Regions from separate parts of the Homo sapiens genome. Here regions 1 and 3 are each linked to region 2. Evidence: fine-mapped QTL for protein levels in blood plasma. A gene starts in region 2. Each other region holds a variant in brackets. All regions are shown on one strand. Distances are from middle to middle.

The links. PIP is the chance, under the fine-mapping model, that this variant and not a neighbour inherited with it causes the effect. Protein levels are from antibody-based Olink assays in UK Biobank. Linkage for the fine-mapping came from a reference panel and not from the study's own genotypes, which makes the PIPs less certain.
Region 1: its variant is fine-mapped to the plasma level of the RSPO1 protein (UK Biobank, PIP 0.94).
Region 3: its variant is fine-mapped to the plasma level of the RSPO1 protein (UK Biobank, PIP above 0.99). The variant lies in the coding sequence of RSPO1. If it changes the protein, the assay may bind it differently, which can mimic a change of level.

Annotation. Positions count from the first base shown.
Region 1 is chr1:37,596,174-37,604,537 of GRCh38, forward strand. No RefSeq gene overlaps it. Among named protein-coding and RNA genes, the nearest start is that of GNL2, 4.4 kb to the left of the region's middle. RefSeq lists an enhancer at 7,055-7,349. The variant C/T (reference allele first, on the strand shown) is at 1,160.
Region 2 is chr1:37,631,282-37,641,700 of GRCh38, forward strand. It overlaps RSPO1 (R-spondin 1), which reads right to left and starts at 3,611. Exons shown (of 7, transcript NM_001242908.2): 1 at 3,285-3,611; 2 at 1,006-1,072. RefSeq lists enhancers at 1,902-2,429, 2,958-3,485, 3,486-4,012.
Region 3 is chr1:37,608,153-37,616,787 of GRCh38, forward strand. RSPO1 (R-spondin 1) reads right to left here. Exons shown (of 7, transcript NM_001242908.2): 4 at 8,332-8,523; 5 at 6,032-6,181; 6 at 5,552-5,740; 7 at 3,198-4,769. The coding sequence ends at 4,603. Among named protein-coding and RNA genes, the nearest start is that of GNL2, 17 kb to the left of the region's middle. The variant T/G (reference allele first, on the strand shown) is at 5,693.

The sequences.
Region 1 (8,364 bases), 36 kb before region 2:
AGAAGCTTCTTCCCAGGCCAGTGGCACAAGCTTAAGTTTGTCTTCTGAATTTGTCTTCTAAGTCCTTCCAAAAGTTGCCGACCACACAGCAGCCAAATATCCGTTAGGAGGTGTCATTCTCTTCCTTACAACTCCAGTGGCTTATCATCACTCTTAGAATGAGAGGTAGGGGAAGGGAGAAGGGAGAAACAGACAGAGACAGAGATTGATTCAAACTTTTTGCCATCCCTACAGGATTCTGTGATCTGGCCCCTGCCTGCCTATTTATCTAATCTCATGTGTACGTCCCTCCCTCTGGTTATTCTGACATTTACACTGGATATTCTCTCTGCCTGAATCACTCTTTCCCAGAATCTTTGCATAGCTGTCATTCAATCCTAAGCTCAAATATCACCTATTGGTAGGCCTGCAAGAATTAGCAAATAGAAATACAGGACACCAAATTAAATTAGAATTTCAGAGAAAAAAAATGAATACTTTTCTTTAGTACACCTCCAACAGTGCCTGGAAAATACTTAGACTAAAAAAGTATTCATCGTTTGCCTGAAATTCAAATGTAACTGTACGTTCTGTATTTTATCTGGTGACCCTTCCTGCTGTGAGAACTCATTCCTGTCTAATTTGTCTAAATCAGCCACCTTTCACCCTTTCACAGTTATTCTGTTACAGTATTCTGTTTTATTTATTTCATGGCATTTATCACTAGTTGAATTTTTTTTACAAGTTTATTGGCTGCTTCCCCCAAACTAGAATGTAAGATTCTTAAAAGCAGGGACCTTGTTAATTTGTTCACTGCTGTGTCTTTAAGACTTGAATAGCATCTGAAACAAAGGACTCAAAAAATATTCATTAAGTGAAAGAATGAGTAGATGGGAATGTCTCTTGCCTTGAGGATGAAGGAAGGCATTAAGACCCAGTGATTTCTGTTTCTACTAGCCAGAATAAAGTGTCTAGATGCCAGTGTTTGAACCAAGAAGCCCTCTCTCTTTTTACAATTTATTTTTTGTTTGTTTGTTTTTGTTTTTGTTTTTTGAGACGGAGTCTCGCTCTTGTTGCCCAGGCTGGAGTGCAGTGGCCCGGTCTCGGTTCACTGCAACCTCCACCTCCCGGGTTCAAGCAATTCTCCTGCCTCAGCCTCCCAAGTAGCTGAGATTACAGG[C/T]GCATGGTATCATGCCCAGCTAATTTTTGTATTTTTAGTAGAGACGGGCTTTCACCACATTGGCCAGGCTGGTCTCAAACTCCTGACCTCAGGTGATCCACCTGCCTCAGCCTCCCAAAGTGCTGGGATTACAAGTGTGAGCCACCTCGCCTGGTCCCTCTCTCTTTTTTGGTACCTCAAATTGTCAGAAAATGGCCATCTTTGTACCCTCTGGATAGGCCAAAGAAGAGATGGTTAGGCAAGAGGAAGGGTGGATTCATGCAGTGTAGCTCATTTCATAAAAACAAACAATTTGTTATAAAGTGAGGTATTCTAATTGAGCAGGGGATGATTGAGTCTTTATTTCTCTGAGTTTGAAACAAACCCCAAAACATTCTCTTTAGAGCAAAAGCAGGCCATGTCATAGGCTAGAGCTGGAAATACCTTCTGTCCCTCAAGCTTCGCTTTTATTGCCCCAAGGGCAAGTATCATGAGATTAAATGCAGCTCTGCTGGGAAGGCCCTGACTGTGACCTGTGTTAGGGAAGCTCTGAGAGCTATTTGGAAAAAACTTCATGATCAGTGAAGATGCCCCCTTCCACCCCACACTGTCCCTCTGATCCCCAAAACAAGGATACCATAGCCTCCTCCCAGAGAGAAGATTCAGTTAATGTGTTTCTGATGCCTCAAGTTGGTGCAAACCAGAATAAACACGGATGGCAAAAATCAGCCTATGAGCTCATTCAGGCTTTGATCAGAGACATAATTTCATTATGAAATTTTGAATCAGGCTGTTGTGAAGTCTTGCCAAGGAGTTTCATTTTCCCAGATGATATGGTGGGTTGTTTCTCTCCTGTTCTCATACTCTGCTTGCATTTATCTTACAAACTTTCCATCTATTTTTATAATCTGACCCATCAATCCTTTTACAACAATATTTGCCGATCTCGACAACCAACTTCAATTCTACCAGCAGATAAAAAGCCTGATCAAGGTAAGTCAAGCTTAAGTTACTGGTTTGATTTGCCTGCCCTGCTTGCCGCATTGTAATGCAGTGACTATTTTTCACTCTCTTTTCTGATGTCATGCCAACTAGCAGAGGCAAGATACACCTCCAGGTCTACAGTTCCTCAGCTTTAAAACAGATGCAATAGCTTAACTACTCTGAAAGACTGCAATAAGATCATATGAGTTACAGTATATGAAAGCATCGCAGACATGGTACACATCATGCAGATGGGATGCTTTCTATTTTTCTTCTTTTTTTTTTTTTTTTTTTTGAGATGGAGTCTTGCCCTTTCACCAGGCTGGAGTGCAGTGGCATGATCTCAGCTCACTGCAAACTCTGCCTCCTAGATTCAAGCTATTCTCATGCCTCAGCCTCCCAAGTAGCTGGGATTACAGGCACGCACCACCATGCCCAGCTAATTTTTGTGTTTTTAGTAGAGACGGGGTTTCGCCATGTTGGCCAGGCTGGTCTCAATTTCCTGACCTCGAGATCTTCCCGCCTCGGTCTCCCAAAGTGCTGGGATTACAGGCATGAGCCACTGCACCGGCCAGGGATGCTTTCTATTTTTCTCAAAATCCAAGGTGAGCTACTCATCCCCTCAAATGTTGCTCCTGGTAACCACAGGTTTGTGTGAATGAGAAGACCTTAATGGATGGAGACTGGCTGGAAATGCCATGTTCTGGACTGGTGTCTTCACAGGAAGCAGACAATCCTGACCTTACTTTTTTTTTTTTTTTTTTTTTTTTCAGATAGAGTCTTGCTCTGTCACCCAGGCTGGAGTGCAATGGCACGATCTCAGCTCACTGCAACCTCTGCCTCATCAGTTCAAGCAATTCTCCTGCCTCAGCCTCCCGAGTAGCTGGGATTGCAGGCACCCACCAGGACACCCAGCTAATTGTTGTATTTTCAGTAGAGATGGGGTTTCGCCATGTTGGCCAGGCTGGTCTTGAACTCATGACCTCAGGTGATCCACTTGCCTCAGTCTCCCAAAGTGCTGGGATTATAGGCATGAGCCAGTGTGCCGGGCCCTGACCTCACTTTTATCTTCATTCTGTAAAAAGTTTATCACTGGGGTCTAATGGGCAAATAGCAGCAGCTTCTAAAGCAACATTTTTTAAAGTGTGGTCTGAGAACCACAAGCATCAGAATCACTTGGGGGATCTGTTTTAAAATGCTGGGCATGGTGGCTCATGCCTGGAATCCCAGCACTTTGGGAAGCAGAGGCAGGTGGATCGCTTGAGCGCAGGAGTTCGAGATCAGCCTGGGTGACATGGTAAAACTTTGTTTCTACAAAACATACAAAAATTAGCCAGGCGTGGTGGCTCAAACCTGTAGTCCCAGGTACTTGGGAGGCTGAAGCTGGAGAATCTCTTGAGCCTGGGAAGTGGAGCCTGCAGTGAGATCGTGCCACTGCACTCCAGCCTGGGTGACAGAGTGAGATCCTGTCTCAAAAATAAAATAAAATAAAACAAAAATGCAGATTTCTGGGTTTTATCCCAGAGCTTCCAAAATCAGACCATCTTGGGGGTGGGGCCAAGAGAATCTACATTTTAGCAAGCTCCTCAAGTGATTCTTGTATATACAAAAGTGAAGTCTTTTCCAAGAGTCACTCGGAGGCTTTCTGACCTGCTGACCAGAAGGCAGCCCTGGAAGATCAAGCTTCTTTCCTACCTATCTTAAATCATCTTGTTCTTCTTAGCAGAGCCAGGGTGAGGAAGGCTGCTGCAGTGTCTAATGCACTCTGAAAATATATATCTTGGCTCTGCCCCAAATGCCTTGATATTTATGCTGCAGCCGGAGGGTCGTTATCCTTTGGCAATGCTCATTTGTAAGGCCATTAGCTCTTAATTAGTGCCGGCTTGTTGAGTTGTACTTCCCAGTTGAACTGCTAGCAGAAGCTGCTCTTTTGGGGCCTCTTGTGTCTCTCCTCTGGCAAGCCCATGAAGCATTGACCCGTGCCTGCTGAGGCCAAGAGTTGGGCCCCTGGAATGGCCGCTGCCCAATGTGAAACAGTCCTAGTCCCCAAATGCTAGGTTCTGGGACTCTGGAAGAACAGAGAAAGGCTCAGAATATACATCTTCAGGATTTTGTTGTTTTGTTTCACTGATAGAAAACAAAAAAGTGAGTCCTTGGTTATACAACCTCAACAGTTTTACAAGCAAATTCAAGTATCAGAAAAGTAAAGTTCGGCCGGGCGTGGTGGCTCATGCCTGTAATCTCAGCACTTTGGGAGGCCAAGGCAGGCAGATCATCTGAGGTCAGGAGTTCAAGATCGGCCTGGCCAACATGGTGAAACCCCATCTCTACTAAAAATACAAAAATTAACCGGGCGTGGTGGCACACGCCTGTAAACCCAGCTACTAGGGAGGCTGAGGCACAAGAATTGCTTGAGCTTGAGAGGCAGAGGTTGCAGTGAGTCAAGATTTACACCAGTGCACTCCAGCCTGGGCGACACAGTGAGACCCTGCCACAAAAAAAAAAAAAAAAAAAAAAAAAGGAAAAGAAAAGAAAAGTGTATTAACTTAGAGCTTCATAGGCCAAGTTACCCTCAGTTTTCAGTCTAGGGTGTCTGGGAAATTCTTGGACAAGGATATAGCAAACTAGTGGGCTTGCTACCTGTAAAAATGGCTAGGAGACTCACCTCTGGGAACCCCAAGAAACTTTTCTTCATGGTCACCACTTCTAAGTGGGAAAAACAGTCGTATTAGTCTTGGCATGCATCTCACTGCTGGGTAGGAGCTCTTCAAAAAGATCCCCAGATTAAGCTTTGGAAAAATAACTAGAAGCATTTCGCTCCTTCCTATCACCAAATCCCTTGTGGTCTTCGGCATATTCTGCTCAAGAAAATCTGAGAAGCACTTTTATGAGATGCTATTAATGGCCTCTAATTTTCAGCATGGTTTAGATAACTCAAGACTGCTGGCCGTGTCCTGAGAAGTGGATCCAGAACACACATTGATGTGGGAATTTAAAGTATAATTCCAAATTGTAGGTAATTGTTTAAGCTCTGAGGAGGCTGGAGGGCCTATATTAAGTCATCTCCCCAGGATCAGTGTGTTTCCTATTACACTCAATATCTATCTGTCCAGGGATCCTTTTGATTTTGAAGCCGTTAGACCAAATCTTTGTGTAATTCTTTACTCCCTTCTCTCCTGCCTACCTCCCTCCTTTTTCTTTAAGAAAACACTTTTTAAAAACTTTATCCAGGTCCCTTGGTTTGTTTCCAGTAGAATAATGTCATGTTAAAGAATCTGAAAAGTTAACTTCCCATCTAAAACCAACAGATCAGTGGAGCTCTGTCTGTCAGAAGTTCAGTCTTGCCCTAAGGGCATCCTCTGCCCAGCAAGACACTGAGATTTTCCTTGACCTCCTCCATCCCTCTTGCTCTTCTGTCTAGACTAGGAACAAAATCTTATTTCTAAAATAGAGATTCAGGCAAAGGTATGGAAGAAAGTCAGGGTGAATATCTTCTCAAGCAGCAGAGGAAGAACTAGTCAAAACCTTTAGCTATGTTTCCTTTTTTAGAGCCCCAGTTAGAAAAAGATAAGTCTATCACTCCCTCATCTTTGGGAAAAGCAATCCTTCCTACTCACTTTTTAACCCAGTTTGGAGGAATCTTCTAGATGTTTTTGTTTTGTTTTGTTTTGTTTTGTTTTGAGACAGAGTCTGGCTCTGTCACCCAGGCTGCAGTGCAGTGGCACAATCTCGGCTCACTGCAACCTCGGCCTCCCGGGTTCACGCCATTCTCCTGCCTCAGCCTCCCGAGTAGCTGGGACTACAGGCGCCCGCCACTACGCCTGGCTAATTTTTTGTATTTTTAGTAGAGACGGGGTTTCACCATGTTAGCCAGGATGGTCTCGATCTCCTGACCTCGTGATCTGCCCACCTCGGCCTCCCAAAGTGCTGGGATTACAGGCATGAGCCACCACGCCCTGCCAGATGGTTTTTTGTTGTTGTCATTTGTTTGTTTGTTTGTTTTGAGACGGAGTCTCACTCTGTCATCCAGGCTGGAGCACAGTAATGCGATCTTGGCTCACTGCAACCTCTGCCTCCCAGGTTCAAGCAATTCTCCTGCCTCAGCCTCCTGAGTAGCTGGGATTACAGGTGCCTGTCACCATGCCCAGCTGATTTTTGTATTTTCCGTAGTGACAGGGTTTCACCATGTTGGCCAAGCTGGTCTCAAACTCCTGACCTCAAATGATCCACCTACCTCAGCTTCCCAAAGTGCTGGGATTACAGGCATGAACCACTGCACCTAGCCCCTTCTAGATGCTTTAAAAGTCTATCTGAGAGACTTTAAAGTTGTCAGTTTTGCTTCTAGCTAGAGCTAGGGAAATCCCCAAGATGCCCAGTCACTGTGCCCAGGACCTGGGGACTCAGGTTTTGCTGTGTCCTCCCCACTCTCCTACGTCAAGAAAAGGCATGAACCAAACCAAGTAGCTTATCTCTGAGTGCAGGGGTAGGCAAATTACAGCCCACAGGCCAAATCCCACCAGTTGCTGTTTTTATGTGGCCCAAAAGCTAAGAATGGTCTTTATGTTATTAAATGACCGACCAAATTCAAAATAAGAATAGTATTTTGTAACATGTGAAAATTATATGAAATTCAAACTTCTGGGTTCATAAATAAAGTTTTATTGGTTCACAGCCACACTATTTGTTTACATATGGTCTATGGCTGATTTTGCACTACAAAGGCAGAGATGAGTAGCCACGACAGACCACATATGGCCTGTGAAGCCTAAAATATTTACTACCTGGCCCTTTACAGAAAACACTTGCCTACAACCCCCTGTGCTAGGGCACTGGTATGTGTTCTGATCATTGAAGAGACAGGGAATTGACCATTCAATGACTATTTATTTGCCATTGCTCTCTGAGAGTGAACATTGCCCATCCCACTATAGAGGTATATTTCATTTTTTCTGCCCTGGGGATTCAAACGAGGGTCCACTCCTCACCTGATGTAGCTGATGCTTTCATAGACCAGCAGGGGGCTCTCTGCAGAGGTTTAAAATTCACGGAGAGAGAGCCGGTGCTAGAGGGCAAAAGCAAGTCTCAGGGGAGCAGCACTGACCTGTCAGTCCCCTAACTGAGCTCCAGGACTTTTTTTTTTTTTTTCCTGAGGCCAAAGGAGAAGGGAGCTTCAGGCAGAAATCCAAAGGGCTCCTTTGTCCGCAGTCTTTGTGAAAGCAACTTTGGTGACCTTGAAGCAAAGCACAACAGAAAGTAGAGGAGATGGTCCACTTGCCCGGCATGGTTCTGGTGCACCGTGGTCTCTAGGGGCTACACCCAGGGTGGGCAGCTTCAACTGTGTTGGAGGCAGCCCCTGCAGTGGGGCATGGGGGCACACACTGGCAGGTGGTCTTGAGTAGCTTTGTGAGCAATGCATGCTGATGAGGGGCTCAAGAGGCAAGGCAGGGGTGGATGGATGTCCTTGCAGGCCCTATAGCGTTATTTGTAAGCACATATGATCCAACCCTCAGAATCCCCTCCTGCCAATAAATGAGACACTCACCAGGCTGCATATCATGGTACTAAGGTATGGAAAAGCACATGGAAAATGCAGGTTTTCAAATAGCTAAGTGGTAGCTGAGCCAGACTACCTGCGGTCCAATTCTGACCTCATTTATTTATTAGCTGTGTGTCCTTGGTCACATCCTTTTACCTCTTTGTGTCTCAGTTTCCTCATCTGTAAAATCGGCCTAATAATGGTATCCACCTCACAGGGCTGTGTTGAGGGTTAAATGAAGCAATGCAAGTAAAAGGCTTAGAATAGTGTAAGCACTGTGTCGATGTGTAGTACTGTAAGCATTATGTGTATGCGCATAGTGTAAGCACTATGAGAGTATTTCCAACTGTACCCACAGCCTCAAGAGACTTGGGAAAGAACAGGAATGCAATAATACATCCCACAGTCTCTGCTCTCAGGAGCTAACCTTAGGCTATGGGACACAGACATGGATGTCATAAAGGTGAAATAGTCCATAGAAACATACAGGAGGAGCAGCTACTGGGGAGGGGCCTCCTTCACAGAGGAAGGGTAATTCCATCTAGGTATGAAATATGAGTAGAAGGTCTACAGATGAAAGCAGGGAGAAACACATTTTAGGTGGAGGGAACAGCATAGACGAAGGCATGGGAACTTGAATGTGTATTTGTATTGGGCACAGTGAGTAATTCTGAGTAGAAGAGTAGATGGGGCAGGGGATGGGGGT
Region 2 (10,419 bases):
GTTTACATGAGGCTGATGGATCCCACCTGGTGCTGTGGCCTGAGCCAGAGGAGATGCCCCCAGCTACCCCCAAATGCCCGTCAGCTGCCAACCCCTGCACGCCCCTCCAGTACTCCCTGCCTGATTTACCAAAGCCTTTCTATCCTCCCCAGCCCCCACTACACAATTCTCTCACCCACAGATTATAGATGTCCAGTTGAGTTTATCAAACTGGGGTCTTCTGGCCCAAGTCTGTAGTCTCAGAGGCTGGCTGTACAGCATGATAGTCACGGGCATAAACTTCAGAGTCAGACTGCCTGGATTTGAATATTGGTTCTGCTACTTATTAGCTATGTTACCTTGCTTAGCTGGTCTGAGCCTGTTTTCTTATCTGCATGAAGGTTATTGTTGTTTATAACTTAAATGAGTTAATACACAAAACTGCTTAGAATGGTGCTGGCACACAGTGATGACTCAATAATATTTGCTGTATTTGTTATGACCAAAGCTTCACTTTGTGTCTACATTCTAATAATCATTCAAAAGGCAATATGAACATGTTCTGTATCATCTGGATACTAACCTTAATACTGAGTACTGTTATGCAATTTCCATATTTGCATTTATCTTTATGGTTGATTGCCTCGACACCAAAGCGATCACTCAGAGTGATAGGATTTGCCTTTAATTGCAGCATTTCTCAAACTAAGGTCTGAGAATCCCTGGTAGATCTGTTCCATGAGTCCTTACAGTTGACAAACACTGCATTAGACAAACTTGGTGTTAACCCTGGATCTGAAAGACTTTGGACTCACTGCGTGATCAATATCCCTGGGGTTTTTTGGGGCACAAAATGTCCCCTATGCATCTCTGCATTCCTTGTGCCAACCTGTCATGGTGCCTGGCAATTGAGGGTGAGTGCTCGGCAAATGTTAGCTCCCTTCTTTTTCCTCCCTCTCCTCTCCCTCTAAATTCCTTCTCAATCCTCCCAGGTCCTAGTTTTCAGCTGACCCCTGCCACACTCACCCAGTCCTTGCCAGCGGTGATCTTCTGGCCCACTCCCACCTGAATCACCAGGAAACCACAATCTCAGCTGGAAAATCGTAAGGAGGATCCAGATGTAAATTTCACTGAAGCAAGTGACACTGGCCTCCCCCACCTCTGGGATGGGAAGAGTTGCAAGCACTTTTTGAAAATGTACATATAGAATCAACCCTGTAAAGGGGCTAAGAGTTCCTCTATACCAGGGGGTACAAATGACATATATGATTGAAGCTGGATGTGGAGGGGGTAAACTGGAGGGTAAATGCCCCATCTAAAGGGAGCATATGCCGTTCAGCTCTGACTGATTGTTGAAAGATCTTCTGATTTTCTAAAAGAGGAGTGGAAAATCCAGGATCTTACATGAAATCTGATTTGAAATGCTGGACAGGTCTCGGACTAGGAACCCTGCAGCACCAAGCCTCAGAGGGCCACAGGTCCCTGCCTCAGTGGCTCCACATTCCTGCATCTAGTCCCTGACCCCATATGCGCACACACAGGCATGCACTCTTGCAGACATGGACAGCATGGGCTAGGGCTGAGAGAGGAGATATGAGCTGATGACTCCCTTTTAAGCAGGCTGCTTCATTTCTTTTAGAGTCCTCTGTCTGATTTCCTTTGAGCCATGGGCTATATGGCACTGGCAGTTTATGTTTTTGAGGCTCACTCTACACAGATAGAATGGGGACTGCTGGCAGTGCCTCAGGTTATTGGTGGGGGTAAGAAAGGGCATTTCTCTCTGCCACTGTGGGGGTGAGGGATTCACACTTGTTAGATGCCTCCCTCCACCTGCCATGTGCCAGGTCTTCGTTTACTCCTCACAATGGAAGGAGGAAGGTAGAATTATTTCCATTTTACAGGGGAAGAGACCTGGCCCTGAATGGTTAAGTGTCCCAGGGGTTACAGACCCAGTTAGGGACCTGCCCTCAGGTTTGCTACCCAGGACTGGGTGTGGGGAGGGCGGGGCAACCCGCTGGGAGCTGCTGAGTGTGGGGCACAACCCAGCTTGGGGAGTGGACCTGCAAAGTGGGGACGGGGCTGGTGGCAGAGGCAGAGCTGAGAAGGGAGACCAAAGCGAGAGGCCACAAGGGCCTCGGAGGGGAGTATACAGGTCGGGGAGGGGGACACAGCTGGAGGTGGAGCTGAGGGCAGAAACTCAGCCCCGGGAGGGGGCTGGAATCACTTTCACCTTCTTGCCTGCAATACCGTCAGAATAAAGTGGTACTCCATCAGGGGCCCGATACAGACCCAAAAATGTAAACTATCTAGATAATTTCGCATTAGCCCTCCCCGGGCCGGGCTACAGGCTGGAGAGTTTTGGCCGCCCAGCAGGCTGGCAGGCGGGGGCAGAAGAATTGCGGGCGGGGGGCGGGACAAAGTATGTGCCTGTCCGACCTGTCGGGATTAGCCTGTCTGTCGGAGCCAAGCCAGGTGCTGGGGCCGTGCCCCCCCTCCAAAAGCAAGGGCAGCGGAGGATGGCTTCTTCACCCCTCCATCACCCCCGCAAGCGCGCACATTCTTCTTCCCTCCCCCACCATCCCGCAGAGGCCCCAACAGGTGCCGAGGGAGACGCGGACCTGAGGTTCCCCTGGCTGGCCCTCAAGAGCCAAGAGAGCTGTCCACGTCTGAGAGGCCAGTTTCACAAGAAAACTCCTGCCCCCAAGCACACTCACTCCAAGTCTGTCCCGGCCCTCCAGGGAGTCCCGGGCGAACATAGCCCCCACCTCTCCCCAACTAAGCGATACCATCGGTTCCTGAGCGCCAGACCCCGAGGGCCAGGGAGCCGCGCCACTTCGCTGCGCACCGGGGGCCGCAGCGCATGCCGCCTGCCACGTCGAACCCAGGCCCAGGCTGCGGACTGGGGTGGGGGTCACCAGAGACCGTGGGACTTGGGGGAATCCGAGCCAATGAGCCCCAGGATCAAGAACTTCTGGATTGGAGGCGGGGTATAAACAGGGCTGGTGGACTTGGGGAATTCAGGACTGCGAGTGAGGATGATCACCCGGGGCTGCGGGATGGAGGGGAGTTCGAGGGGAAGAGGCTGCCTGCTGGATTGAGGGCCGACGGGGGCGGCAGACTTGCAGGAAGGGTGCAGGAGGTGCCCTGTCCTGATCGCCGACCGGAGAGCGATCAGACTCCCCTTCCTTTCTGTCTCCCCCCACGCACCCAGCTAGAACCAGCCCCGACGGGAGGGCCCGCCGCGCCCCAGCTCCCGGGGAAGGGGGCGCTGGGGAGAAGGATGGGGCAGCTACGAGGGGACTCACCTTCGTGCTGCCAGTCGCGACGGGGGCAGGCCCGGGAGGGGCGAGGGCGCGGCCCGCTCACCCGCCCGCTGCGGGACTGTCCTGGGCGCCCGGCTCGCCTGCGCTCCGCCCGCCCGTTCCCAAGTTGCTCAATCTGCGGACGGCTCACGCCCTCGGGGCCAGCGCCCCACCCGGCGCATCGGTCCTCCGGGGCGGCTCGGAGCTGCCCTCGTTCTCCGCAGCACCCGAGCGGATGCCCTACTCTGGCCGGTCGCTCCGGGCTCTCTGCCCTGCGCTGGTGCTCTCCGTCGCGCCTCCGCTCGGCCGGAGCTCCCAGCCCGGAGAGGGGCCAGTCCTCTGCGAGCACCAGGGAGGGAATCCCCCCCTTCGCAGTCCCCCCCGCGAGCCGGCCCCCCTTCCAGGGATCCGCAAGAAAAAATGGACTGGAGCGCCGGCCCGGGAGTCCACACGTCCTTGCCCGAAGCTGGCGCTCTGCGCTCCGAGCGCGGGGCTGGCGGAGGGACAAGTCCCCAGGACCCTGGGGCAGACCTTCTGCTTTTGTCCCCTGCCCCTCCCCGCGCCCCGGGGATTCCACGCAGCCAGAGAACCCGCAACAACTCCGCTCATCTTGGCGTCAGAACGCGGCCGGAGACCCTCATGAAAACCCCAGTTTCCCCATCAGGAACCTGGAAAGTGACAAGGAACAGGCTCCACAGAGCCTGGTGGTCTTGACCACACCCTCTCCCCCTTCAGGGTCAAATCTTCTGTGCATCTTCCCAGTTCAGAAGAAATACCAAGGCTATCAGATCCTGGGCACCGAGGTGAGGACACCTCCAGAGGCAGCTGGTAGGTGAGAGTGAGGGAGATCATACAATAACACTTAGATTCATGTCTGGCTCTATCACTTACCAGCTGTGTGGTCATGCCTAGGTTACTGAACCTCTCTGAATCGCAAGGCTTCATCTGTTCTGAGGGTTCAATGAAATGAAGGCTACAAACTTCTGGTTAATGGTGGGAACCCCATACATGTTTGTGGAATGAGTCTTGAACGGCTACAGACACCTGCAGTGACCCAGATGATGTTGAAGTCAAGCCCGAAGAAGGGAGGGAAGGAGACTCACTTCTTAGAGTGACAAACAGCTGTTCTCCAGCTTCACTTCAGATTGGGAAAGGAAAATGGGCTAAAACTGTAGTTAGTGGGAGTTAAGCTAGAGCAGAAAAGATGTACTGATTGTGTGTGTGTATAGGGGGGGTGAGTAATCAAGACAGGCTGTGGAATCTCCCTCTTAGGAGAGAAGGGGGGAGCCCTGACTATTGAGTTAAGGGCACAGGGTCGTTTACAATGACAGGAGGATGGATGTAATGACCCCTAGAGTGTCCCAATGGCCAGGGAACAGGGATGGTGGATAGCCAGAGAAAGTGGAGCAGTTGGGTCCGAAATGCCCAGTGTCTGGGTTCATTCAGCCAGAGCATTGCCAAGTTTGCAGGAGGCAAACAGTCATTTCCGAGTTGGTCCAGGGGCCCCCTCCAACCTCCAACCCCCACTCAAGTCCCTCCTCTCTCACCTCTGCCCTGAGCCTTCCCTGCGTCTAACCGGCCCTTGGCTATGCTCTGTGTCTAATCAAACAGCCCCAAATGCCGAAAACTCAATGTTTATTTTATTTTATTTTTTTACACACTTGCATAACTCTCTGACAAGCCACGCCAGGCATTGGGCTTTTTGTTTGGTTTTATTTTGTTGCATTTAGGAAAAAAAAGAGGGAGAGAGAGAGAAAAGAGAAGAAATAACACAAACCACACAGCCCTAGAAGCTGTCCTAGGCCAGGCAGTGGGCTCGGGTTTCCTGCCTGAGGAAAAGTCTGTGGAAGTTGGGGGGCCTCGTTACTAGGCTCAGGAATGAGTGAGAAAGGGAAGAAAGCCACCTGGGTGACAGAAGATAACGAATTAGAACCATGTGACAATAATGGGTGAATAAGAAAGAATGTTTCTTGTGCACCTAATGTATGCCAAGCACTGTGTTTTGCACATATATTCTGTTACCTAATTTCGCAACTATTGTAGTTCCTTTCTTTTTTCCTTTTTTCCCATAAATGTAAATTCTGATCCTCAGAGACGCCAAGTCAATTGCTCAGAGACACACAGCCTGCAAGTGGCCAGCCCAGTTCAGGTTATGCCAAATGAGTTGTTTCCCTGGGAAAGCTGTGTTGCTCTAAATTTGCATATGCTGTTCATTCTGCTTAGAAATGTCTTTTTCTCGGCCAGGCGCAGTGGCTCACGCCTGTAATCCCAGCACTTTGGGAGGCTGAGGCAGTCGGATCACGAGGTCAGGAGATCGAGACCATCCTGGCTAACACGGTGAAACCCCGTCTCTACTAAAATTGCAAAAAATTAGCTGGGTGTGGTGGCGGGTGCCTGTAGTCCCAGCTATCGGGGAGGCTGAGGCAGGAGAATGGCATGAACCCGGGAGGCAGAGCTTGCAGCGAGCCGAGATCACGCCACTGCACTCTAGCCTGGGCAACAGAGCAAGACTCCGTCTCAAAAAAAGAAATGTCTTTTTCTCTAATCCTTTTTGTGTCATCCTTCAAAAGGCCTGTATGAAGTTTAGCCTGACCACCTCGAAAGTCAGCCTCCAAACCTTGTGTAGACCTGTACACCACCCATCATTGGCCAATGATGGTCTCTTCCACTGCAGTGAGTTCCTAAGGAACTGGGAGGATGTTCACAGACAAAAGCAGAACTCTGTCCGCACGGAAGAAGGGCTTTTGGATTGGAAACTACTGGCATCTGTGATCATTACTGTTACTCTAGAAAAAGCTGACTTTGTTACTGTCAATTTATAGGCTCCCCTGAAAACTCTAGTCTTCATAACCCTGCTGTTCTCTGAAATCTTTCATTCATTCATTCATTCTTTCTATTTTTTTATTTTTTTATTTTTTAGAAGAAGTCTTGCTCGGTTGCCCAGGCTGGAGTACAGTGATGCGATCTCGGCTCACTGCAACCTCAGCCTCCCAGGTTCAAGCGATTCTCCTGCCTCAGCCTCCCAAGTAGCTGAGATTACAGGCACGCCACCACGCCCAGCTAATTTTTTTTGTATTTTTAGTAGAGACTGGGTTTCACCATGTTGGTCAGGCTAGTCTCGAACTCCTGACCTCAAATGATCTGCCTGCCTCAGCCTCCCAGAATGTTAGGATTACAGGCGTAAGCCACTGCCCTGGCTAGATCTTGTCATCCTTTCTTTCATTGAGGCAATATAGCATAACAGCTAAGTGCATGGACACTAGTATCGGCCGAGTTTGAAGCCCATCTCTACCACTGACTAGCTTAATGTCCTTGGGCAAGTCACTTCACCTCCCTAAGCCTCAGTTTCCTCATCTGTTAAATACATATAGTAACAGTATTAACCCACCACAGTTCTTACAGGGATGACATAAGATAATGCATTTAAAGAGCTTGGCACAATGTTAGGAATTATAGTAAGTACTTAGTACATGCTGGCTCTTCTTATTAGCTATAATTTGGTCAGTGCCTTTATTAGATATCAACCAAGCACTATTGTATCCCAGGCACAGGGCTGGAAATGGAGGATAGAGAAATGAGTATCACACTGTCTTCCTAAGGAACTCCTGGTTTAGTGAGGAAGGCCGACTCAAGAGCCTGGTGAAAGGGTAAATGAGGTAGAGTGGTGGGACAAAATAAGGGGTGACTGTGACTCCTTGAGGGAATCTGAGAAGGCTTCTCCAGGGAAGAAATGCTTGAAAGATTTATTGGCATTTTCTAGGCACATGTGATCAAAAGGCATTCCAGGCAGAGGGAATGGCAGGTGCAAAGGCCCGGAGGCCTGCTGCATCGTGGTGCCCTTAGTGCTATAAGTAGTTCTGCTTCGTGGGGATTTCGGATGAGAGAGGTGAGGCGGGGAAGAGGGCAGCAGATGGGGTGCTTCCAAAAGGACCTTATGGTACCAGGCCAAAGAGCAGGAACTTTACCTTGAGGGCAAGGGCAGCCCCTGAGTGTTGATGAGGCAGAAAGGCAGGACCAGAGTTGTGCTTTAGGAGTGTCTTGCAGCTCTGGTGAAGGCTGAATTTGAAGAGGCGAGACTGAAGGGAGTGAGGAGCCCCAGTGAGCAATAATAAAGTAGATCATTCCCAAGAACACTGCCCAGCTCTTCCTTGTTCCTTTCTCTCCACTTTCCTCCCAGGGGGTCTGCTGTGTCCTCTGGAAGCCCCATACCAGCAGAAACACACTTCTCAGATTCTCTACCTTGTTGTGAGTGAGTTCAGGCTCCTTTAACACACACCAGGGACGCCATCCCCTTTGCCCAACAAAGTCTGGCAATACCACTCATTCTCCTGCACGAGGGTGTGGCATCTGCCTCATTCCACACCGCCCCCCTGCCCTCCCTTTTGTAACTGTTCCTCCTGTTCTACCTCCCTGCTCTCTTCACCTGAGTTATTTCCCCCATGCCCTGCTGTGCTTTCTTTGCTCACACAGGACCCTGGCATCTGTCTCGAGGTCCTCTTCTCTGTGGCAGACTCAAGCATCACGTTGGGGACCTCGTTCTCTATGTCAGTGCTACGCCCAACACCTCTGGGACCTCCTGGACCAGGTCGATACTCTTGTCCACTCCACTTTGGCCTCCCATTCACATGGCCACCCCCTCTTGACCTCACCCAAATTACTCCATCCCTGAAATCATAGGCTTCAAGATCCTCAGACCCCCCCACTCTAACCTTCTGCTCCCAATCTCTCATGCCCTTCCTTCTAATTCAGATTCTTGGCGTTTCACCTGCCCGATAACGATTTCTGCACTGGCCTTGCCTCAACATCTCAACTGCCCCACAAACCCCCTGCCAGTTCCTGCTGAGCTCCTCTGGACAGTCCCCCAGCTACCTGAGACAGTGCCACTGCAAATCCACAGCCAGCCTCCACTGGGGCTTCAGCAAGCCCACGGATGACCGTGCAGACTTCCCCTTCCAGCCTCTCCCAGCCTCTCACTCCGTCCCAGCCCCCATCATCAAGCAGCTAAGATGGCCAAGAGTGGCCCCTTCAACTCCCTGCTCCTAAAACTAAACTCTTGGGCCCTGCACAGAACCTCTTTCTCCCCAGTTTTTCTCCTTGGAAACAGCGATGAAACTGATAAAGCAAGAAACTGGGAGTTGTTTTGCATTCTTCTCTCTCACCTCCCACATCCACTCTACTGGCAAATTCTGTTGGATCTGCCCCCAGAAACTTTCCTGCTTTAAGCCAATTTTGCCGCTTACCTGGACAATTGTTAGTGTCCCTTCCAGGTTGCCCCACTCCCACTCTGTCCCCCACCAACACAGGCTTCACACAGTAGCCAGAGTAAATTAACAATTATAAAGCAGGTCCCATCATTTACTCCCCTGCTTAAACCTTCCAGTGATTTTCCATCACACTTAGAACCAAATTCAAACACCATCCCTTATAAGGCTACATCCCTCCAGCTTCATACATCGCCTCTCTCTTGGCTTCAGCCCTACCAGGCTTCTTTCAGTTCTTTGGTAATTCCAGACTCTTTCTCATCTCAGGGCCTTTGCACAGGTTCTCTGCCATCTTGCCCTTCCCATAGCTCTTCATATGGGGCATTTCTTTTCTTCCTTTTTTTTTTTTGGATTAAAAATTTTTTTTAATAGAGGCGGGGGTCTCACTATATTGCCCAGGCTGATCTCGAACTCCTGGGCTCAAGCAATCCTCTCATCTTGGCCTCCCAAAGTGCTGGGATTATAGGTGTGAGCCACTGTGCCTAGCCTCTTTTCTTCCTTCGAATCTCCACTTAAAAATTATTCTGTTAGAAGGGCCTTCCCTGACCTCTCCATCTGAGTAGCTCCCCCATTATTTCATATCACAGCTTCCTTTCTGTTGTAGTGTATGTTGTATTTGTTTGTTGGTTTTATTTTGGTTTTAGAGACAGGGTCTCACTCTGTTACTGAGGCTGGAGTGCAGCGGCACAATCATAGCTCATTCTTCCACCTCAGCCTCCCAAGTAGCTGAGACTACAGGTACGTGTCACAATGCCCAAAATGTAAAAAAAAAAATTTTACATTTTTTTTTTTTTGTAAAGATGGTGTCTTACTGTGTTGCTCAGGCTGGTCTTGAACTCCTGGCCTCAAGACCAATCCCACCTTGGCACTGGGATTACAGGCATGAGCCACCATGCCTGGCCCTATTTTGCGTTTTGTAGCCATTTATTTGCATGCTTCTGTACTAGACTCCAGTTCCCAATCCTTCCATGTGAAAGAGCCCCCTTCCTTGCCACAGTTCTCACTCTCCCTGCATGATCCATGGCTAAGGTCACCAAAAACCTCCTTATCACCGCATTCTGTGGTTCCTTTGTCTTCCTCCTTCTCTATCCCTCTGCAATTCTTGACACCTCCACCTTCTTGGAATGCTTCTCTCCACTGTCCTGGTTCCTGTTTCCTTGTATATCTGTCCACCTCCCCTCCTAGCCCTTAACTGTGGACAAACCCAGGGTGATTCCCCGCCATCTGCCTTTCTTGTCAACCATGAACTAATATAGCTAAAAAGCACAATGCCCAATAGTAAGAAAAGTAAGTGTCAAGTTGGCTAGGCCATGGGAAAAAAACATTATGCTTTTTGTTTCTCTGCAAGTATTTTTTCAATGGGATTAATACTGAAATCAGTAGACTTTGAGTAAAGCAGATTACCTTGCATAATGTGGGTGGGCCTTAACCAATCAGATGAAGGCCATAAGAGGAAAAGACTGAACTCCCCTGAGCAAGAAGAAATTCTGCCTTTGGACTTGAACTGCAACACCAGCTCTTCCCTGGGTCTCCAACCTGCCAACCTATCCCTGCAGATTTTGGACTTGCCAGCCTTTACACTCATGCGAGCCAATTCCTTAAAATTTAATCTCTCTTTCTCATTGGCTCTGTTTCTCTGGAGAACCCTGACTAATAGAGGAGGTGCTAAATAAATCTTAACTTAAAAAATCCCAAACTCTTTCCTTAGTGAAATCTTTCTCACAGATCCATATATGTTGGGTCTGAGAGTCAGGACACCCAAGTTCTAGTTCCAGGTCTGCCACTTGCTGGCTTGATGATCTTATCCAACTCCCCCGACATCTGTAAACCTGCTCCTCCCTCAGTCTTTCCCATCTCCATAAACAGCATCTCCAGCC
Region 3 (8,635 bases), 24 kb before region 2:
GGGGTGTACATCAGTGGATTCAGGACTTCCTGAAACCCATACTGTGTTCCTTATCTTAGCTGCCTAGGGCCTCAAGAGCAGCTTTAGGTGGCTCAAAGATGCGATGCAGAGAAGCGGGATGGCTCAGAGCATCACAGAGTTGATGGCAGGAGATACAGGAGGATCCAGCTCATTCTTTGATGTTGCTAAGATTCTGGATTTCTGCTTTGATGTTGGTGTAGAGGAAAGCTTATGACAGTGCTTCTCAAATTGTTAAATATCTGCACAAATTTACTAAGGGATCTTCTTACAAGGCAGAATCAGATTCTTTAGGTCTGGGTAAGGCCAGAGATTCTGTATTTTTAGCAGCTTCCAGATGAGGCCAAGATCGCTGGTCCATGGCCACACTTTGAGGAGCAAGAGCCTAAGGGTCAGGGACAAATCAGAGACAAAGACAGCCAAGACATACTGGGACTGAGGATTGATGCCCCAAAGTGAGAAACAGAAGGACAAAGAGAATCAATGGTGCACAAAAATAGAGTCAGAGGCTGAAGTGGGAACAGAGAAGGTCAGGGTGACAAAAAGAGGGACCGAGAAGACAGAGTTAGAGACGCAGAGAGGGGCAAAGGCAGAGGGAACACAGAGATGGAAGATGGATGGCACAGAGAGACTTGCAAAAACACAGCCAGGGTCAAGGAGAGGAGACAAGGTAAAGAGTGAGTGAAGAGGGGCTGGAGCTGGCTGTGGGCGGTCTGTGACTGGCAGTGAAGATCACAGGTGTAGACGGGACAAGACCTGCAGGTGCACAGACATGAAATCCCCCACCTTCCTCACCTCCCAGGCTTCCCGCACCTGCATCACTCTCTCCTTGCTCTTGCAGAGCCATCCCTCCCCATGGAACCTTCCACTACTGATTTCCCCTTCTCTTGCCTGTGTACTCAACTGCTTTCTCTTAAGTGCACCCCTCCCAGAAGGTTTTAAATACCATCAAGTCTTTCCCATCTAAAGAAAAAAGGTCTCTCTTGACTCATATTTCTTTCTAGCTCCTGTCCTATTTCTCTTCCTCTTTTTCACAGCTAAGGAATTGTCTGTTTCCATCACCCTCCCCAAACACTGCTGCTAAGCTTCTGTTGGCACACGTTGCTGAGTCCAATGGTCACTTTCCAGTCCTCTTTTGCTTGATCTCTCCCTCCTTCTTGCTAGCTTCTGGGACCTGATATTCCCCTGGGTTTCCTCTTGCCTGCTCCTTCTTTAACTCACCGTTTGTGATCTGATCTTTATATTTAGAGGGACTTTATATTAGAGCTGGGCCCAGACTCCTCTCTTCAACCAGTGCTGTCTTTTCAGTTGAGCTCTTCCAAACCCACAGCCTCAATTGCCTTCTGTACACCAGTTTACATTCCATCCCAAACTCCGCCTGTACAACTAAACTTGTGTTTATGTCTAAGCAATGTCTGCTCACCATCTTTACCAGGATGTCTCAGAGGTACTACAAACTCAACGTGGTCGAAAGCAGATTTATGTTCTTCCTTCTTCTCCCAAACTGGTCTTCCTCGCAGGTTTCCCACCTCAGAACACAGCACTGTCATCTGTCTGGGTGTTTGAGTCAGAAAAAGAGATTTCATCCTTGATAACTCCTCCCCGTCTCTCCCCTCTTCCACATCCAATGCATCACCAAATTCTGTCAACTTTATGCCCCAAATACCTTTTGATTTTGCTCACTTCTCTCCATTTCCACTGCCACCACCCTAGTTCAAATCTCCAACATCTCTCACCTAGATGACAGCAACAGCCTCCTAAGCAACCCCTCCCTAATCTGTCTTTCAAGCTACAGACAAAATGATCTTTGCAAAATGCAAATCTGCTTGTTTTGGCCTACTGCTTAAAACCCTTCAGTAGCCTCCTTTGGCTCTGAGAATAAAGGGCCAACTCCAGGCAATCTTTCTAGAATCATCTGAACTCATTTGCCCTCGAGACCTTCCAGCTATACTGGCTTTCTTTCAGTTCCTTGGCCAAACTATTTTCTGTCACAGGACAATTGCATATGCATGTCTGTAGAACTGTGCTGTCCAACATGGTAGCCGCTCACCACATGTGGTTATTGAGCACTTGAAATATGGCTAGTGCAACTGAAGAACTGAATTGCTAATGTTATTTAATTTTAATTGGCTAAATTTAAAATTTAAAAACATACATCATTCAGTTACAGAAAAACTGGTAAGTATTCTCAAAACAACTTGGGTATGTGTATCTTCTTTTTCAACTTTAGTTTTTATGCCATGTAATTACAGATCAGGTATTTCTGCTGAAAATTTAGCATCCAAATTAAGATATGCTGTGAGTGTAAAAATACACATGGAACATTGAACACTTAGTTTTAAAAAAGTAAAAGATCTCACTAATAATTTTTTACCTTGATTGCATGTTAAAAAGATAATACTTTGGGGCCAGATGCAGTGGCTCATGCCTATAATCCCAGCACTTTGGGAAGCCGAGGCAAGAGGATCGCTTCAGCCTAGGGGTTCAAGACCAGACTGGGCAGCATAGTGAGACCTCATCTCTATGAGGAAAAAAAAAAGATAATACTTTGCATATATATGGTTAAATAACAGATGTAATTAAAATTAATTTCACCTCATTCCTTTTTATACTGTGGCTACTAGAAAAACATTTTCTTTTTTTATTACTTAATTTTGTTTTGCACACCAGGCTGGTCTCAAACTCCTGGGCTCAAGTGATCCTCCTGTCTTTGCCTCCCAAAGTGTTGGGATTACAGGCGTGAGCCACCCTGCCTGGCATTTTTTTTTTTTTTTTTTTTTTTGAGACAGTCTCACTCTTTTGCCCAGGCTGGAGTGCAGTGGTGTGATCTCGGCTCACTGCAGCCTCCACCTCCCGGGTTCAAGTGATTCTCCTGCCTCAGCCTCCGAGTAGCTGGGATTACAGGTGCACACCACCACACCCGGCTAATTTTTGTATTTTTAGTAGAGACGGGGTTTCACCACGTTGGTCAGGCTGGTCTTGAACTCCTGACCTCGTGATCTGCCCACCTCAGCCTCCCAAAGTGCTAGGGTTACAGGCATGAGCCACCGCGCCCGGCCCAAAAATGTTAAATTAAATATGTGGCTCACATATTTCTACTGGACAGCAGCAGTCTGTCTTAAATCCTTCTACCCATCCTTCAGAGTTAGGCTCAAATATCACATCCTCTGAGACACCTCCCTGAGAGAAAGTATTTTATTTTTATTCTGCTTTATTCACTTTCATAGCTAAGCATAGATGCCAGTGGTCACCTGCCCTTGGCACCATCCTTTTGTAGTTATATATGTGTTTGTACAATTCCTTGGTGCATGCCTATTTTCTTCCCCACCAACCTCTAAGCTCCACAAGAGCAAGGCCCGTGTTTGGCTCCTCCCTGGAAACCTAGCACCTAGTCCAGAGCCTGGCACACACTTCAGAATGCCACAAGGAGTTATTCCATCCACTGCCCTGCCTTTGGGCAGGATTGTCCCCAACCATCACTGGAAGCCTACGCACTCCCTTCCCCTGGCAGTGCCACTAGCCCTTCAGTATATAGATTCTGCCTCTCCCAGATGGAAAGTCCTCCTTTATAGCTGACCAGAATCCCTCCTGCTGCAAGATGGCCGGGGCCCTTTCTCCCGTCCTTTAAGGGGAATTACAGCAGCACTTCTCAAATTTGGGTAACATGCCAATCATCAGGAATCTTAAAATTTAGACTCTGGCTCACCAGGTCTGGAATGAGACCTGAGATTCTCATTCCTAACAAGCTGCCCTGTGACAACACTGCTGCCGGGCCATGCTCTGAGTAACAAGGATATAGACAGCCTGTTTACCACCGTCAGAGCAGCCCCTAAGTTTTCTTCCTTGTCTGCATGACCCTCTACTGAGCAGGCTATTTGGGGTCTCTTGAAATTCCCTGTCCCTTCTTGCTCCTACGCATACCTCGCCAAACCCTCACACCCTGCAAAGGAATGTGGTGCCTGTGTCTACTGCTGTCGTTGATTTTTTTGTTTTAATTTGAAATAAACCTTTAAGCAGTTTTCAAAGTCAGGTTAACCCTGATATGTATCCTGGAAGGGTAACAATACTCTCCAACGATAAAGTCACACAGCTGGGAGTGCTGAACAGGATGGGAAGAAGGTTTCTTCCCAGGTCACCAGCAGTCCTCAAGCTTGGCTCCCATCTGCCACAGTGGCTGGTCCGATCCCAGCAGCTTCTCCAGAAGGCTCCCCTCTGCAGTTTGGTCTCAGATGCTGGGAAGTGTTGTCTCTGACATGTCCACTGGGAGCTCTGGAAACCAAGTGTGTACTGCTGGGCCCGAGGGATGGAAGTGTCTTCTGGTGGCCTCAGGTGTGTGTGTGTGTGTGTGTGTATGTGTGTGTGTGGTGTCTGTGTCTGCGTGTGTACATGAACACACATGTGCAAGTATGTATGGTTGTATATGTGGACAGGGGTTTGAGCGTGTGTGTCTTGTGTCTATGTATGCATGGATGGATTGGAGTGTGTGTGTATGCTTTGCCCCCGACGTTCCAGTTCAGGAAAGCTTGAATCACGCAGAGTAGCACTGAACTCTTTCTGCATGGGCCTGGAGGCTGGACAGTGTCCCTAGGCAGGCCCTGCAGATGTGAGTGGCCCCACTGTCCCTTGCTGCTGCTGCTGTTGCTGCCCCTTGCGTCTTCGAGAGCCAGCACCCGCCTCCTTGCTCTCCTTCCTGGCCAGGTTCCTGTTGGCATTCTCCCGCCGGCCCTGGCCTCCCTTCCTCCTCTTCTGCCCTGAAACAACCAAACAGCAGGAAGAATCAACAAAGGATGTGCAGGGAGGCCCTGGGCATGGCCACAGGCCCTAGGAGGGGAGTGTGAGGAAGCCGGAAGGGGAGGCAGGGAGGAGGCTGGAGATGCTGCCTCTAGGTAGTTGGGTCATCGTGACCTCCTCTGACAGCAGCCACTTCAGAGGACCCCGAGGCTTGAGTACTGGGAGGCAGCCCAAGAGCCCTTTCACTCCCCAACCCTCAAGGCACACAAGACATCATCCTCTTCCTCATGGATTCCTCAGACCTTGGATCCCAATGGACCAAGAGCACTTCCCAGGTATTCAGTGCAACTCTCAGAACAGGCAGGACTGCCCCCATCCCCTATCCGCCACCAGCCACCTCTGGGGCCAGGCAAGAGCAGCAGCCAACCCCTTGCCAACTGCAGGCTGTGTGACTTTGGTGGAATCACTACACCCCTCTGGGTCTTAGTGCCCCTTTTCACCCACCCATCCTGCCTCCGAGGGGCCTTCTAGTATGAACATCCACTAGCTCAGAAGAAATGGGGGAACCGGAAGGATGTTGACCACAGAAGCTTCCAGCTTCCACTATGCAGAGTTCTGAGGCCCTGTTCTCTGCCAGGACATGGCATCTGGATTGGACAGCATGAGGTCTTGAGTTGCGGGTGCCCCATCTGGCCTTGCCCTGAAGCTTCTTCCTGAGCCGTGGGCAGGAAGCAGAGGTGGCAGGACCTGTCATGGCTGGTGCCTGAGCCCTGACCCCAGGGAGGCAGAGGCTGCAGCTCACCCTCAGGACACGGCACTCTCCTCACTGTGCACCTCCGGGTCTCCTTGGTGTCAGAGCAGGCAGCATGGTCCCCCACAGGGGCATGTAGCACCCTGCGTGTCCGCTCCTCGGAGCCCCTCCGGAAACCACAGAGCTGCTGCT[T/G]CTTGGAGCAGGGCCCCCACGGAGACCACTCGCTCATTTCACATTGCGCTGGCAGGAAGAGAAGGGAAGGGAGAGAAGGACAAGGAGGAGGGGATCATGTCTCCTCCTCTGGCCCAGAATAGCCCAGGGGAGCATCTCCCACTTTCCTTCTGCCTGGACCTGAGGCTGCAGGTATCTTTAGTCCAGAGGGCAGAAAAGTCCTTGGAGACTCAGAAAGGAGTGGTAGGGTAAGCTCTCCCTGCACAGTGCCCCAGCCCACCCGCTCTCTTGCCAGACCCTTACCCGGCCCCTCCTTCTGGGGTCCTGGACCCTCTGCCCACAGTGCCTGCCATGGCTTACCAGGACTACTGCACTCCATGGTGCCATTGGCAGCTGAGGAGCCCTCGGGACAAGCTGGATAGCAGCGGCCCTTGTGCAGGTACAAGCCCTCCTTACACTTGGTGCAGAAGTTATGGCTGAAGCAGGCCTCACAGTGCTCGATCTTGCATTCTGAGGAGAGGACAGATTGGGGGCTTCTGGCCCAGCCTGGTGAGAATGTTTCCCCTCATCCCCAGCCCCAATACCCTCCCTTCTGTCCACACCCACCTACATGGAGGGCAGGACCCTGGCCTAGAGCTGCAGGTACTGCAGAGGAATCTTGGGAGGAAAGGGAAAGGAAGGGCAGTGGCAGGCCAGGGAAGAAGAAGCTGAAGCGGTTGCTCCTGAAGGCTGGCTGGGACTCTTGCCACCATCAGCCAACTCGATCATGAACCCAGTCTCAGTCCCTGCAGCCCAAGGTGAGGCTCAAGAGAGCAGTTTCAGAGGCGGAGGGTGGGGCCGTCTGGGCCTGGTGGGGGTGGGACAGGAGAGTTTCAGCATCTCACAGCATCCAGAGGGCCACCCTAAACAGAGTTGAACTGAGGGACAGAATGGCCCCCCAGAGAGTGGCTGCATGATCTCTTCTTCCCTCATTGCTGGGCATCTGCAATGTCCCAAACTGTGGTTCTCCTCCTGCCTGGCAGAAAGAATCAGCATGGAGGAGGGGTAAGCCATCCCAGGGCAAATGCCTCTGCCTCTGCAAGGCTGAGTTCCAGCAACAACCTTGGTAGGACTCCTGGGTCCCTCCCTGATTCCCTGCTGCCAGTTCTCTCCTCTGGGGGAATGGGGGCAGGGTGGGTCTTCCAGGGCTTGGCTGGAAGCAGGCAGGGTCTTTCACAATCTCTCCTTCCCAGAGTGCAGGCGGGGCTGACTTCCTCCCAGGCTCTGCCACCTGAAGCCCATGCTGCCAGTTTCCTAGGAGCTGGTGTAGCCAGGAGCTCCCGACTTTAAGGACCATGAGGACCAAGAGGGTAGCTCCCAGGGTCCCACCTCTGTCCTCACAAACTCCCACCATCCTCCAGGCTTATCTCAGCCTCACCTCTCTCCTTCCCTCCTTCCTTCCCTCCCTGGTGCTCTGATTCCTGGGTTTGGTTGCCAGTCAAATAAGAACAAAAATAAGAACAATAGCAGCTACCATTCATTGAGTGCCAGACACTAAGGGCTTTACATGCATGTCTCACAACAACCCTAGGGGGTAAAAACAAAGATGAGGCATTGAGGGGTTGAGATGTGCTCAAGGTCACACAATGAAGAAGTAGCAGAGTTGAGCTCAGAACCAACTCTGAGCTGGACTGGTCCAGTCTAGTCTTGGACCAGTCATTTACCCTCCGGGCCTGAATGTTGTCAGCCCTGAAAAGGGCACCATCAATTGTGTCCTGTCTCCCTCCCAGTGTTGTTGTGAGGCTCAACTGATATGAGACCTGCAAATGCATTCTAAATGGCAAGGCACTGAACAAGTGGTGGGGGCACTGGCATTGTCCCCCGAGTGTGTTCACACGTGTCCCCCAGCACATCACAGCTGCATCTACAGAGAAGGGATGGAGATATGGTAGCGTGTGCCTTGGAGCATGTGGAGCTGTAGCTGTTGTGGAAATGAGGAGTCAGAAGACCAGGGAGAGAAGAGAGTGGAAGAGCAGGCTGCCTGGGCTTGGATTCCCCTGCAGCCCATGTGGAGCTAGCAGTGGTTTTTAAGCAGAAGTGTGATGGGATAGGTTGTATGTCTCAGAAATGTGATGGGATAGGGATAGGTTCTGTGTCTCAGAAGTGTGATGAGATAGGTTGTGTGTCTCAGAAGTGTGATGGGGTAGGGTGTGTGTCTCAGAAGCGTCTTTCTGGCTGAAGTGCAGAAGATGGGTTTCAGGGAACCAGATGAAGGCTGGAGGACAGATGAACAGGCTATTGCAATGATCCCGGAGCAAGGTGCTGGGAGCCTGGGGAGGACAGTGGCAGTGTGGACATACAGGAGATGACAGGCAGGCTTTGGTGATTGGATGGATGGGGTGGGAGAGGTTGGCACTCAGGGCTGTGGCTTGGGTGACAGGTTGGGACATGGAGGGTGACCTCTGGGAATACAGGTAGGGGCAGGTGCGAAGGGAGGAGACAGGGTTCTGATATTTACACACCAAGGTGGAAGTGTGCGGCTGGATACTTGAATCGGAGCCTCATCTCCTCTCCTCAGAGCCCCCTCTGCTCCTCTTGCCAGCCACCAATGGTTCAAAGCACTCTCCCCCAGTCCAGAGCTTCTAATGCCCCCTGCCCCCGACAGCCCTGCCCACACTCACTGATGCACTTGTTCATGTCGGGGTTGCGGGCGTCGAAGTATCCAGGTGGGCAGGACGGCAAGCAGACGCCCACCTGGCGGATGTCGTTCCTCTCCAGCAGGATGAACAGCTTGGGTGAGCACTTGAGGCAGCCGTTGACTTCAGAGCAGAGCTCACAGCCTTTGGCACAGGCCTGGCTCCCCTCGGCACTGACTGCAAAGGTGGAGCAGGCATGAGAAGGCGGCTGTGGAGAGAACCTCACCTATCCAGATTCTGACAAGGATGGGAAGTGAATAGATCGATGTTTCCTTCCACAGAAGGAATA